2 linked regions of the Homo sapiens genome follow. The protein of the gene in region 1 interacts with the protein of each later gene in a pairwise test. Each region holds a gene or a part of one and is shown on either strand. Other genes may lie near its edges.

Region 1 (7,000 bases):
GGACCAAGCCCCCATTTCTTCAGTGTGGCCGGAAGTTCCCTCCAGGGCATCCTGATCCAAAGGTGGAAGCTGGCAGTAGATGCCCAAGGGCTCCCTCGCAGGGCTTGTCCCTTGGGCATCCCTAGAGGGACAGGCCCAGGTCAGACCCCATTTTCCAGGTCCAGTGGCAGGTATGGAAAGAGCCTAGGCAGTGACTTGTGCACTGGCTACAGTTCCAGGCCTTCTCGAAGGCTGGGCAGTGTTTCCTCATTCCAGGAAGCCAGCGGAGCCTCTGCGAGCTGGCTGGGCACAGCAGCCCCTAGGTCAGCAGGCTCATGCTTAGGGTGGTGGCCACCCAGGAAGGTTCTGGATGAGGGTCTTTGCCTTAGGGACCTGGCCCCCACTGTCCACCATCAAGTTGAAAGTGACACTACCTCCCTAGTCTTGTGATCAGCTCCACGCACTTCGCCCTGGAAGTCCCATGCCAGGCGTGAACTGACCTAAGTCCCTCCAGTCACAAAGGCACTTCCCAAATTTGGTTGTGTGGCTGCTGCTATTTTGTTTATTTGTTTGATAGCAGCCACTGAAAACTTGGAGGAAGGTGAAGCCAGCCTCATTATCAAGTTTGAATGAAAGCAGCCTCAGAGCAAATTCTGCCAGACGTACACATTTTTGGACAAATATTTACCTGAAACAAGTCCAGCGGAGTCCATACAGCCTGTCCTGTGGGCTCGGTGAAGCCCAGCAATCTGCTCTCTGCTGCCCTGACCACACCTCCCTGGAGCTCTCATGGATTCTTTTACCTGCTCTTTCCTGAGTCAAGAGTGTCTCTGAATTCATTTAGCCAACCCACACATCTTGAATACCTCTGTCTTTACCAATGAGAACGCATTTCTAATATTTACTTTGCTAATCATCAAATGCCCAATGCTGACCAGAGATAAAGACGCTGAAGTGCCTGTCCCTGCTGCCTCTGGAGCAGATGCTTTCTGCTTCGAGGCAGTGGCTGCGAGTGGGGTAGGGGTGGGCGTTGCTGATTTGAATACATCTAGGTTGTAGCTGGCATAATGAAACCACACAGAACAGCCCACCATCTCTGCAAAGGAGTTTAGGATCCAAATGCACCACCCTACCAAGGAAGCAGAAGGTGAAGGCCGTGCCCTCAGGGAGCGTGCAGTCTGGCGAGGTTGCTGATGCAGTAGAGTCCTGAGCTCACAGTAAAATGCTGTTCTGCACGCTTCAGTTAACTTTCGCAGTGCAGGAGCCATTTCCCAATTCGATGGACCAAGGAGAGTGACAGCCAAGCACAGTCAAGAGCAGGAGGTGACAGTCGTATTAGAGGTGTAACTAAAAATTCACGTAAACTTGATCTCATTTGGTCCTTCCAAGACTGTGAGGTACGATCCATTACAATCCTGTTTCATGGATGTGGAACCTAGGCCTAGGAGGGTTGAATCTGTTGATCAAGGTCATAGAACTAGTAAGTGGCAGGCTGGCTGTCAACCAACCCACGTCCCCCGACACCCGGCTCTGCCCTGTTCTAACTTGCTCCATCCCTTTCTCCTGCTCCTGATTCCTTTCCTCTGCGAGGTGTGAACCCGGGAGGCTTCAGCAGCCAAGTACCTCCAGCGCAAGCTGACACGGCAGGGAAGCAAAGTCACACATCCCATTTTCTGCCCTGCCTGCGGGCACTCAGGCCATATGTCCCTGCCAAACCCCAGTGCAGGCACAGCGCTGCACCTGCAGCCACTTACAGGCTGCACTGGGCAGTCCAAGCCAGGCTGAGGCCACACTGGGACCCCACTGCGTCCAAACACCAGGAAACCCTAAGGACCCTTCTAGCCCCTGAGAGGTCAGGACCCCCAGCCCGAACGTGGAGGTGCCCAGTTGGCATAAGCACAGGGAACACCGTGAAAGGCCTTACGAAGCCTTTTAGAAACTCTGGGCTTTGGAACTTGTGCTGCAGAGTAAAATAGAAATCAGATCATCTGGACAAATCCCCCCTTGAGCTGGCGTTTGTTGATTCTGCCTATTTTCAACTTGGAGCCAATTATCCTGTGGATTCAAATAGTCCTAGATCTGCCTTGTTTGGAGGCTGAGGCCAATGCCAGCTGGTTAGGAGCCACTCTGGTGGGCTGAAGCCACAGGGGAGGGCACACATCCCCCGTGTCCTTAGCTGTGCCCTGGTGTCTGAGTTTCAGCCAGCTGGGAAGTGTTTCCTGTTTGTATAGCCAGGGTACCGGCCTGCGCTGCATTCTGCTTTCATCTCTGCAGATTGCTTTAAAGGCCACTCTGTGTCTACTTTCTGCCCTCTAATCCCCACTGCCACCATGGCCTTTGGCCAGAAAAGCCCTGGGTCTCATGTGGCGGTTGGCGGGGCGGCAGCAGGCTGCCTTAGCCCGTCTGGGCATCCCTGCCTTGTCGAGCGTTTCCCGGGAGGAAAACCACATCCTTCTCTTTTTTTCCCATGGCTACTTTCCCCCTCCCCATCTCCTCCAAACTGTCAGATTCTCAGGCACCTCTTCCTGCCTGCCAGGGCCGCCCTTTCCCAGAGCCCCGCAGCCTTGGAAGGGACACACCAGCGACTGGGCGTCCCAAGAGCCCCTCTCCCTGCAGTGGCCCTGGGCTTTCTCCCCGCCTTGCAGGGAGCCCATAAATTAGATCTGTGGCTCCCAGGAGCCAGGGCCTCTTTCTGACCAACAGGGAAGCAGTATTTCTTGGCAATTTTCTCAGCAGCCTCTTTCACCGGGCTAAATGAAAAGGAAGGTTTCCGCGCTCCCAGCCTTCCTGCAGGAGGACTGTGCGTCAGCTTGAAGCAGCCTGAGCCCATCAATTATTCAGCATGGACCCAGCACTTTGAATTTGCAAAGGTCTTAAGTATTTTTATAGATTCTTTTCTCATAATGTCCCAGCGAGACAAGCAAGGTTTCCCTGTTTCCTAGACAATAGATGCAGGGTTCAACTCGGAGTCAGAAGACTTGGGTGCAAGCGCAGCCAGCGCCACTCATGGAGCTGTGGGACCTGGGGCAGTTCTTTCGATGGCTCTGGTGTGCAGTTCTCTGTGGTATAATTCTTAGGAAGGCCTCCCTAGCCCAGGTCATTGTGTGTGTGGGGAAAAAAATTTGCAAATGCAGTGTGATTAAAAAATGCATGTGGTTGCTCTTGTTGCACCAGGTGTGGAAACGGAAGCTTCTATCCTGAGCTGAAGTGCAACCATTAGCATAGGACACTGCAAACCGGGCTCTGCTGGGAGACAGTCCCCAGGGAAACGTGGGCGAGTCGGCGCCTCTACTCCCTGGCCCCGTGGGGGTGGCTCCATGACATGGTGGTCCCACTACCTGCTGCTGTGGGCTGACTCTGCATGTGTCAGGGTGGAAGAGGGCACGGAGGTCATCACACCCAAACCAATGGCTTAGGGTGGGATGGGACCCCAGTAGCTGACTCCCAGGTCGGGAACTCTTTTCTCTTCCACACCAGGCTGGCTCTGTCCAAAATGTTTCTCCCGCTCCCATCGGCAATGCTGGGACCCCAGGCAGGAGGCACCGAGGGCTGCCTAAAGCCGGAGTGTTAGGGCAATCTACGGGTGCAGCCCACTAGGGCGCCTGCCCCTCCCAGAGCCCTGTAGTGGGTTTCATGCCATGTACCCATCCTCTCACACTGGTGGCCCCAGCATCACAGCTGTCCCTGGGACTGGCCCAGGAGCCACCTCCATCAACCAAAACAAGCAGACAAATGAAATGAGTCCCTGGCCTGGTGCGGTGGCTCACGCCTGTAATCGCAGCACTTTGGGAGGCCGAGGCAGGCAGATCACCTGATGTCAGGAGTTCAAGACCAGCCTGGCCAATATGGTGAAACCCCGTCTCTACTAAAAATACAAAAATTAGCCAGGTGTGGTGGTGGGTGTGGTGGTGGGTGCCTGTAATCCCAGCTACTCAGGAGGCTGAGGCAGGAGAATCACTTGAACCTTGGGAAGCAGAGTTTGCAGTAAGCCGAGGTCGTGCCGCTGCATTCCAGCCTGGGTGAGAAGAGCAAAACTCTGTCTCAAAAAAAGAAAAGAAATGAAATGAATCCCTGTTCCAGTTGAATTCCAAAGAGTCGTGTGACTTGTCCAGCGTCACAGGTTGTTAATGGCAGAACTTCCCTTAGGCTGAGGTCCCCTCACTGCCCAGCCCTGCCCAAGGACTAAGACCCCAGCCCCGGAAAGAGGCCCTCCTGCCACAGCAGCTGTACTCACAGCACCCACGTGCTTGGCACTGCAGACCGAGGCGCTCGGTCTCTTCTTCCTCTTCTGCCCAGAACAATTTTACAGAAAAACAAAGCATTGCCTTGGGAATATTTCAGTGTTATTTGCCCCTGAGGTTTCTAGGAACACTGGACTTGTAAGTACTATAAAGCTCACATGCCTGTTACTTCTGTGCAAATGGAGCCACCTGAAAGATGGTCACAATGGTGGAGTTGGGGAGACTTGAGCTGGAATGGTGGTTCCTTCCCTGACCTGCTTGTGAACTGTGGTTTCCTTGCCTGCAGTAGAGATAATACGAGACACTAGATAATACCAGTCATGCCTCAGGGTCATTTCAAGGGCTAAACTAGATATTGCACAGTGCCTGGCACAATAAAAAAGGTCTCCTCTTTTCCTCCTCCTTCTAACAATTTTCATTTATTTCTGTATAAATGAGAAATAGAGAAATGGGTGATAGAGAGAAAAGTAGTCATTCATGCGTTTATTTTATTATCAGAAAGTATGTGTTGAAGTTGTACTGGTTATACCCAGCAGGTGGCCATGAGCAGCAGGGGGAAGAACTGGGGGCGAATTCGCCCTCCTGAAGCCCAGGCTAGTGTGGGCAGTGCCGTTCCAGCCTCTCTTGATGGCAAGAGAATCTTCTGGTGCATTTCACTGGGAAGTTCAGCTCTTTAGGTTCTGCTGGGCCTAAGGGCTCAGAAGATGTCAGGATGCTCTCTCTTTCTCTCTCTTTCTGTTTTTTTTTTCCCTTAGTTCGCCTTACCTCAGGCTTATTCCCTTTTTACTACAGACGGGCTTTCTCCAGACTCTGGAAACTCCAAGCTTATATCCTCCCAGCTGAGCTGCTCCTGATGAAAATACCCTATTTCTCCAAGTGTCTGTGTTTAAATCCCATGAAAATATTCTGATTGGTCTTTTGTGGCCCATTGCACATCCCCAGGCCCAGTCACTATTGCCAGAGTAAGGGCTAAAATGAACGTCTCTTTCTAGGTGTCGTGAGTGTTCCTGGGGCAGGGGTGATGGGCAGGTGCTGTGACTCATGGTCCCTTCAGAACCACCTGAAATTAGACAGGAGTGATGCCCACAGAAGGGATGCTGGAAAAAGATAGATCTGTTCACCCGAGAGGCACATCAGAAATGTGACTCAGTAAAACCATCCAGCAGGTGCACTGCTGCACTGAGAGTGGGCAGGAAAGTGCTCAGATCCAAGTGTGAAGGGAGGAAGCCATCAGCTCCATTCGGAAGAGCACAAAAGACTGTCGAGTGAGGTGCTGTTTGATCCAGGCTTGAAGACTGAGTCAAATTCAAACATAAGGCTATCGCGGAAGGATGAGACATAAAGTTGAGACCAGCATCCCAAACCACCCCATCTCAACTCAAGAAAGATGACTCAGCCACCAGAAGCATTCTGACTTTGAAAGTCTTACCCATGAAGCTGTGGGAGGTCTGCTGGGGAGATGTCATCTGGAGCTGTGAACGACTCTGGCTGGACTTTGTTCGCTGACTTCACCGCATCAGCGTCATCAGCACACACTGAACATCTGCTGTTTACAGGGCCCTGTGCTCGGGACACAAAAGGTGCAGCAGTGTCCTGCCCCTCAAGGAGCTGATGTCTGGTCAGGAAGACAGGACCACAGACTCCCACAGTTCAAGGTCATGCGGGCCAGTGTGCAGTCAGCATGAGGAAAGCAAGTGACTGGAGAATTCAGAGAAAGGTGGCCTGGAAGGTGGGGAGTGTGAGAGGGCTTCAGGGAGGAGGCGAGCCCTCGGATGAGCTTTCAGGCAGTGCAGGGCCTAGCTCGCCAGTGAGGGCCAAAGACAAGGACAAAGGGCCAGATGGACTGCCCAGAAAGTCCTCTTCATTCATTCATGTACCCACTCTCTTACTCAGCAAGTTTCCTGAGCACCCGCTGTGTGCCGGGCACTGCTCTGAGTGCCGGGGTCACAGTCAGGAACAGAATTCGGAAGCCCCTGCCTGCTAGGAGCTGGCATCCTCAAGGGTGGGACACACAGACACCAACAAACATCACGGAGTAAGTGATGAGCTCCGGAAGCACCAGGAAGGCGAGCGCTGGGCTCCATCCTGTGGCCCAGGCTGGGGTTTGCGTGGAGATGAGGTTCAAGCAGAACCAGGCATGAAGCAGCCAGCATATGACATTGTGGCACAGCATCAATGTCCTTCAGAAGAGACTGCCGAGTTCTCACAAGGGTGTGCAGCAGGGAGGGGAAACCCCGGCAGCAAACAGGAGGCTTCCAGGAAGGGGGAAGGCTAGTGCTGTCCTGGCTGGACATGTGCCAGAGGGAATGCTTACCCGGCAGGGTAGACCACAGGGGTGCTTGGAGAAAACCCCAGGAGCGCTGTCCTGTGGAGCCCTGATCCCACCCACACCCCTAACCCAGCCCCGCCCACTTCCCCAACCCAGCCCCGCCCATTTCCCCAACCCAGCCCCGCCCACTTCCCCAACCCAGCCCCACCCACTTCCTTAACCCAGCCCCGCCCATACCCCTAACCCAGCCCCGCCCACTTCCCTAACCCAGCCCCACCTACATCCCTAACCCAGCCCCGCCCACTTCCCTAACCCAGCCCCGCTCATACCCCTAATCCAGCCCCACCCACTTCCCGAACCCAATCCCCCCATTTCCCTAACCCAGGGCCCAACTCACTTCCCTAACTCAGCCCTGCCCACTTCCCTAACCCAGCCCCACCCACGTCCCTAACCCAGCCCCACTCACTTCCCTTAGCCAGCCGCACTCCCCTAATCCAGCACCACCCACGTC
Region 2 (7,034 bases), on another chromosome or scaffold:
AGGGAGACAGAGATCAGTTGACAGGAAGACAGAGTGATAGAGACCCAGAGAGGAGAGAAGGGTACAGAGACTCAGAGAGAGAGATCTCGAGAGACAAGAGACAGAGATGGGAAGGGGCGGAGAATGCAGGAGGAAGGGAGAGGAAGAGCTCTCTAGGTTTACTTCAGGCCCCAAAGCCCTAGCTGGAGAGAGAGCCCGGCTGGGAAGGTCAGAGGTCGGAGACCGACAAAGCAGGAGAGGAGCCCCAGCTGGCTGGGTTTGCCCCCACCTCCAGCACCAAGGATGGGGAACCGAGGGGAGCCATGAGCTCGGCTCTGCACCCCATCCACCCCACCTTCCTGCAGCAACCTGAAGCCAGGGGATGTGGAGCGCCGGCTCAGCGTGGAGGTGTGGGACTGGGACCGGACCTCCCGCAACGACTTCATGGGGGCCATGTCCTTTGGCGTCTCGGAGCTGCTCAAGGCGCCCGTGGATGGCTGGTGAGGAGCAGGGCTGGGGCCTGGGGATGGAGCGCAATATTACCATCTCCATCTGTGTGTGGTCTCTCTCCTCCAGGCCACTGTCCTTCCCTCTGCCTCCCAGCATGCGCACACACACACACACACACACACACACACGCACACACACGCACACACCCCTCTCTCTCTATTCTTCTCTTCTTCTCCCCTCCCTTTCTCCCTCTCCCTCTCTTTTTATCTCACTCTTTCTCTCTTCCATCTCTGTGTCCGTCTCTCTGTGTCTCTTTCCTCCCTTCCAATGTCTTTGCCTCTCCCATGGGTGCCCCATCCCCGCTGCCCGCCTCTGGTCTCCGTCTGTATGTCAGGTACAAGTTACTGAACCAGGAGGAGGGCGAGTATTACAATGTGCCGGTGGCCGATGCTGACAACTGCAGCCTCCTCCAGAAGTTTGAGGTACCCAGACCCTGGCTTCCTCAAGGGAGCCCAGCCCAGCCTCCCACGGTTCAGAGCTGGCCTTTCCTTCCACCCCTGAGTGCCCGCTGGTCCTGGGACTACAGTTCCCAGAAGACCCTAGGACTCCCTCCTCTGCTCTTCTAGGGGACTCGAGCCCCAGGGTCTGATGGGAATTATAGTTCCTATCTATCGCCATGGCTTGAGGGTACTAGGGGCCACCAGCCCCTGTTCTAGGGCGATCCCCTGCATCTCTTGGGACCCTGACTCTCTCTTTCTTTTCTCCCAGGCTTGTAACTACCCCCTGGAATTGTATGAGGTGAGTAGAACCAGGGCGTTGAATGGAGGCAGTTTTTGCCTACTTCTCTGATTTCTTATTCCTCCTCTGACTTCTGTCTTCAATTCCCCACACATGAGTTGAGCACACATTTGTGCTAGGCCTGTCTTGTGCTTGCTGAATAATCCAGGATCCAGAGATGAATCTGACCCTCAAGCAACTCTCCAAGGTAGGGACACAGTCACAGATACTTAAAATACAGGAAGATGTGCTAAATTAGAGGTAGCCCAGGGCACTGAAGAGGCCTAACGGAGGCACTAATCCAGCCTGGGGGAGGGTGGTCAGGGAGGACTTCCCTGAGGAGGTGACGCCTGAATTGATTCTTGAGGTTTTTTAAAATTTTTTAATTTATTTTTATTTTTATTTTTATTTTTATTTCTGTCGCCCAGGCTGGAGTGCAATGGCACAATCTCGCCTCACTGCAACCTCCAGCTCCCGGGTTCAAGCAATTCTCTTGCCTCAGCCTCCTGAGTAGCTGGGATTACAGGTGACCGCCACCACACCCAGCTAATTTTTTTTTTATTTTTAGTAGAGATGGGATTTCGCCATGTTGGCCAGGCTGATCTCAAACTCCCAAACTCAGGTGATCCGCCTGCCTTGGCCTCCCAAAGTGCTGGGATTACAGGCATGAGCCACTGCGCCCGACCGATTCTTGAGTTTTTTATTTTTTTTTTGAGACGGAGTCTCGCTGTGACGCCCAGGCTGGAGTGCAGTGGTGCGATCTCGGCTCACTGCAAGCTCCGCCTCCTGGGTTCACGCCATTCTCCTGCATCAGCCTCCTGAGTAGCTGGGACTACAGGCGCCCACCACCATGCCCGGCTAATTTTTTGTATTTTTAGTAGAGATGGGGTTTCACCGTGTTAGCCAGGATGGTCTCGATCTCCTGACCTGGTGATCCACCCGCCTCAGCCTCCCAAAGTGCTGGGATTACAGGCGTGAGCCACCACACCCAGCCGATTCTTGAGTTTTAAAAAATCTATCAAGCATGATCATCTTAATCTCTCCATTCATTCATTCACTCACTGAATATCCTTCTTTTTCTTTCTTTCTTTCTTTCTTTTTTTTTTTGAGACAGAATCTCCTTTTGTCACCCAGGTTGGAGTGCAGTGATGCAGTCTCAGCTCACTGCAACCTCTGCCTCCCAGATTCAAGTGATTCTCCTGCCTCAGCCTCCTGAGTAGTTGGGATTACAGGAGCGCACCACCACACCTGGCTAATTTTTGTATTTTTAGTAGAGATGGGGTTTCGACATGTTGGCCAGGCTGGTCTCGAACTCCTGACCTCAAGTGATCCACCCGCCTTGGCCTCCCAAAGCGCTGAGATTAGAGGCGTGAGCGACCACGCCCAGACGAATACCCATTTTCTAGGGTGTCATAAGCCAGGCCCTGTTCTGGGAATAGAATCAGGCCATTCCCTGGTGGAGCTCTTCTTCTAGTGGAGGACAAAGTTACAAACCCAGACATTCACAACGAGGAGCAATGCTGCTGTAATGGAGACAGCCTCAGGCACTGGGGCGTCCCTGGCACAGCCTGAGTCAGAGAAAGCTTCCTAGAGAGGTGAGACCTGGTAGAAGGGCGGGATTTCCCAAAGGAGAGACCAGATTTTCAGGCAGGAGGAAGTAATGCTCTCTCCCTCATTTACCCTTTCAAAAAATACTTTACAGAGCATCTTTGTGTGCCAGGCGTGGCTCTACTCACTGGGGATATAGAGAAAGCAGGGAAAGAACAAACAAACAAACAAAAAAGTTCCTTTCCTTATGGGATTTACACCGGGAGGAAGACATTAAACAAAATATATAAGCATATGATAGACTGGGCACGATGCCTCATGTCTGTGATCCTAGTAAGGCGGGCGGATCACCTGAGGTCAGGAGTTTGAGACCAGCCTGGCCAGCGTGGCAAAACCCCATCTCTACTAAAAAATACAAAAATCAGCTGGGCATGGTGGAGGCGCCTGTAATCCCAGCTACTCGGAAGGCTGAGGCAGGAGAATTGCTGGATTCCGGGAAGTAGAGGCTGCAGTGAGCCCAGATCGCTCCACTGCACTCCAGCCTGGATGACAGAGGGAGACTCTGTCTCAAAAAAAAAAAAAAAAAAAAAGAAGACAAGAATCTTCAAGATTCAACAACAGCAACAACATGTTATAGTCTTTACTGGACTCTTACAGAAACTTTCACCAGAGTTTTTAATGTTGTGTGTGGGGGTTCACCTGCATCAGAATTCCTAGAGTGCTTGCTTTTAAAAGCACATTCCCCAGCCTTTCTGCAGACCTACTCAGTGACGATCTCTCTGATGCCTCAAATGTCTGCCTACTAAATTAATTCCTCAGGTGATCCTTTTGCAAAGTTAAGTTTGAGAATGGGCTCTGCGGCCGGGCGCAGTGGCTCACGCCTGTCATCCCAGCACTTTGGGAGGCCAAGGCGGGTGGATCACGAGGTCAGGAGATCGAGACCATCCTGGCTAACACGGTGAATCCCCGTCTCTACTAAAAATACAAAAAAATTAGCTGGGCGTGGTGGTGGGTGCCTGTAGTCCCAGGTACTCAGGAGGCTGAGGCAGGAGAATGGCATGAACCTGGGAGGTGGAGCTTGCAATGAGCCGAGATCGTGCCACTGCACTACAGCCTGGGTGACAGAGCGAGACTCTATCTCAGAAAAAAAAAAAAAAGAGAGAATGGGCTCTGCAGGAGACAAGGGTACCAGCGGGAGGACATTCTGAGCCAAAGAGGTAGAGTCTTTTGAGATCAGCAGGGATGATCCTCCCGTACAAACCCAAGAAACCCAGCAGGGCAGATGGTGGGCAAAGGCCTAGAGGCAGGGAGTGTAGGGTGGTGTGTGTGCCTGTTGTGGCTCACAGCACTCTCCCACAGTTCAGCAGGCACCACTTAATATTACCAATGAACACCAACTCTGTGCCAAGCCTTGAGCTAGGTACGGGGCTAACAACACAGCAAACAGAAACAGCCCTGATTATTATTATTATTATTATTATTATTATTATTATTATTATTATTATGTATTTATCTATTTGAGACACAGTCTCGCTCTGTCGCCCAGGCTGGAATGCAGTGGAGCGATCTCAGCTCACTGCAACCTCTGCCTCCCGGGTTCAAGCGATTCTCCTGCCTTGGCCTCCCAAGTAGCTGGGACTACAGGCATGTGCCACCATGTCCTACTAATTTTTATATTGCTAGTAGAGATGGGGCTTCGCCATGTTGGCCAGGCTGGTCTTGAACTCCTGACCTCAGGTGATCTGCCCACCTCGGCCTCCCAAAGTGCTGGGATTACAGGCATGAGCCACCGCACCCAGCCCTCAACAAATATTTATGTAGCCTCAATGAGGTAGGCAGTGTTACTGTGTCTTAGCGAACAAAGCAGACCCCTGCCTTAGGGAGCTCACAGGCAGAAAGCAGATAGTCACACAGATAGATGTAAATTACTAAGAATAAAAGTGCCAGGAAGGTGCTGTCCATGGTGACCAAGGGGTGGTAAGAGAGGCATCTGACCCAGTTTAAAAAGTCAGGCGAGGCCTCTATGAAGTGATGCTTGAGTCAAGGTCTAAAGGGTGTTTGGGAGACAACTAGGAGGGAAGGGGAGGGGAGAGCTTTACAGGAAGACCTAACGGCACATCCAGAGGCCCTGAGGTGGGAGGGAGGACAATGAGTGTCAGGCCAGGGTGGCTGGACCATGGAGCCTGGGAGAGAGAAGAACAACCTGCAGTGTCAGTCTCAGCCTGGCTCTGCAAGTCATGTGGAATAAAATCTTAACACAGAGGGAGCAGTTAAAGGGTTTACAAGCATAGGGGAGACATGACCTGGTTTATTTATTTTTAAATTGGCTCCTGTGCCTGCTGAGTAGAGAATGCATTAGAAAGGGCAGCCGTCCATGTAGAGGGACAAGTGTGGAAGCTGTGACAGCAGCTTAGTCTTGGGCCCCCTCCCTGGGGGGCCGAGGCAGGAAAAGGTAGAGAAGGGACCCTAGCTGAAAGCCAGGTGTGCTCCCTGGACTGGCAGCACCCATGTCACCCAGAAGCTTTTTACACATAACGATTCTCAGGTCCCACCCCAGATTTATAGAGTTAGAAAATCTGGCAGTGGGACCCAGCAATCTGTTTTACCAAACCCTCTAGGGAATTCCGGCTTAGAGGCTAAGAGCAACCAGATTCTAGAGCTGGACTGCTTGGGTTTCATTTCTGGCTCTGTCCTTTACCTGCTGTGTGACTTGGGGCAAGTTACTTAACGTCTCTGTGCTAGTCTCCTCTTCTGTAAAATGGAAACGATAGCAGGGTTTTCTGGAAACAGCATATGATAAGCTATCTAAAAAAAAAAAAGAAGAAAAAAAGAGCTAAGTGTTTGTTGAATAATAAATAAACCCTCCAGGCTATGGGGAGTCAGAGAAAATTAAGCCAAGGACAGGGTAGGAGGGTGGCCATTTTCCTCTGTCTAGCGATTCTCATCCTTTCCTTTCTTGGGTGCTGTGTCTCTTGGGAGCATTTCCTTATCGCTGTGTAAGGTCTAACTGCCTCTGGCTCTTTCTTTCTCCTTTCCACAGCGGGTGCGGATGGGCCCCTCTTCCTCTCCCATCCCCTCCCCTTCCCCTAGTCCCACCGACCCCAAGCGCTGCTTCTTCGGGGCGAGTCCAGGACGCCTGCACATCTCCGACTTCAGCTTCCTCATGGTTCTAGGAAAAGGCAGTTTTGGGAAGGTTGGATTCCTGGGGTTCTGGGGGAAAGGGAGGATGTCTGTGGGAAGGTCAGATTTCTGGTTCTTAGGGAGGAAGTGGGGGTGGGAAGAGACTGGGCTCCTGCATCTTCAAATATGGTTAGGTTGGGCCGTTCAGGTTCCTGGAGAGGAGAGGTTTACAGATGTGGACACTCTCCTTGAGGGGACGGGCGGCAAGTCAGGGCTGTCAGTCCCTTAAGAGATGGAGGAAGGGCCTGGGATCCCGTTTCCCTGCGTCCCTTAGGGAGGGGGCAGGTCCTGTACCACTGGGTTCCCAACATGGACTGGCCCTTTTGGAACTGTGCGCATAGGTGATGCTGGCCGAGCGCAGGGGCTCTGATGAGCTCTACGCCATCAAGATCTTGAAAAAGGACGTGATCGTCCAGGACGACGATGTGGACTGCACGCTGGTGGAGAAACGTGTGCTGGCGCTGGGGGGCCGGGGTCCTGGCGGCCGGCCCCACTTCCTCACCCAGCTCCACTCCACCTTCCAGACCCCGGTAAGGATGGAGGGGGCGGAGGCTGTCCTCCGGGCCCTGCCTTATCCAGTTCTGGACATCTGCGTTGGGATTCTGAGTTTAGGGCGAGGCAAGAGAACTTTGTGCTCTCTGAGTGGGCGAGGCCAGGCGGATTGTCTCCTCAGGGGGCGTGGCCGGGGGGGGGTCCTTGGGGGGCGTGGCCAGGCGAAGGGACTCATCGGGGGGCGTGGCCAGGCGGAGGGGCTCAACGGAGGCGAGGCCGGGTGGAGGGGCTCCTCGGGGGCGTGGCCAGGTGGAGGGACTCATCGGGGGCGTGGCCAGGCAGAGGGGCTCTTCGCGGGGCGTGGTCAGGCGGATGAAATCTTTGGGGGGGTGGTTTAGAGGGGCGGGCTTTGTCAGGCGATGGGATCATTAATAGGCGTGGCCAGGCAGATTGGCTCCTTGGGGGCGAGGCCAGGCAGACGAGATTATGAATGAGCGTATCCAGGCAGGTAGATTCTTCGGAGGGCGTGGTCGGGCGGATGAGCTCCTCGGGGGCGTGGCCAGGCGGTGAGTTCCTCGGTGGCATGGCCTGGCCAGGTGAATGGGTCC

Evidence for each region. The genes of interacting proteins can lie anywhere in the genome.
Region 2: the proteins of FAM167A (region 1) and PRKCG interact in binary tests that used the Homo sapiens proteins (3 or more experiments, as listed by UniProt).

What each region holds. Positions count from the first base shown.
Region 1 is NC_000008.11:11,456,754-11,463,753, reverse strand, and holds part of FAM167A (protein FAM167A), read left to right. Parts: intron 1-7,000.
Region 2 is NC_000019.10:53,892,165-53,899,198, forward strand, and holds part of PRKCG (protein kinase C gamma type), read left to right. Parts: intron 1-344; coding exon 345-479; intron 480-823; coding exon 824-911; intron 912-1,197; coding exon 1,198-1,227; intron 1,228-5,794; coding exon 5,795-5,947; intron 5,948-6,275; coding exon 6,276-6,464; intron 6,465-7,034. UniProt on the Homo sapiens protein: Calcium-activated, phospholipid- and diacylglycerol (DAG)-dependent serine/threonine-protein kinase that plays diverse roles in neuronal cells and eye tissues, such as regulation of the neuronal receptors GRIA4/GLUR4 and GRIN1/NMDAR1, modulation of receptors and neuronal functions related to sensitivity to opiates, pain and alcohol, mediation of synaptic function and cell survival after ischemia, and inhibition of gap junction activity after oxidative stress.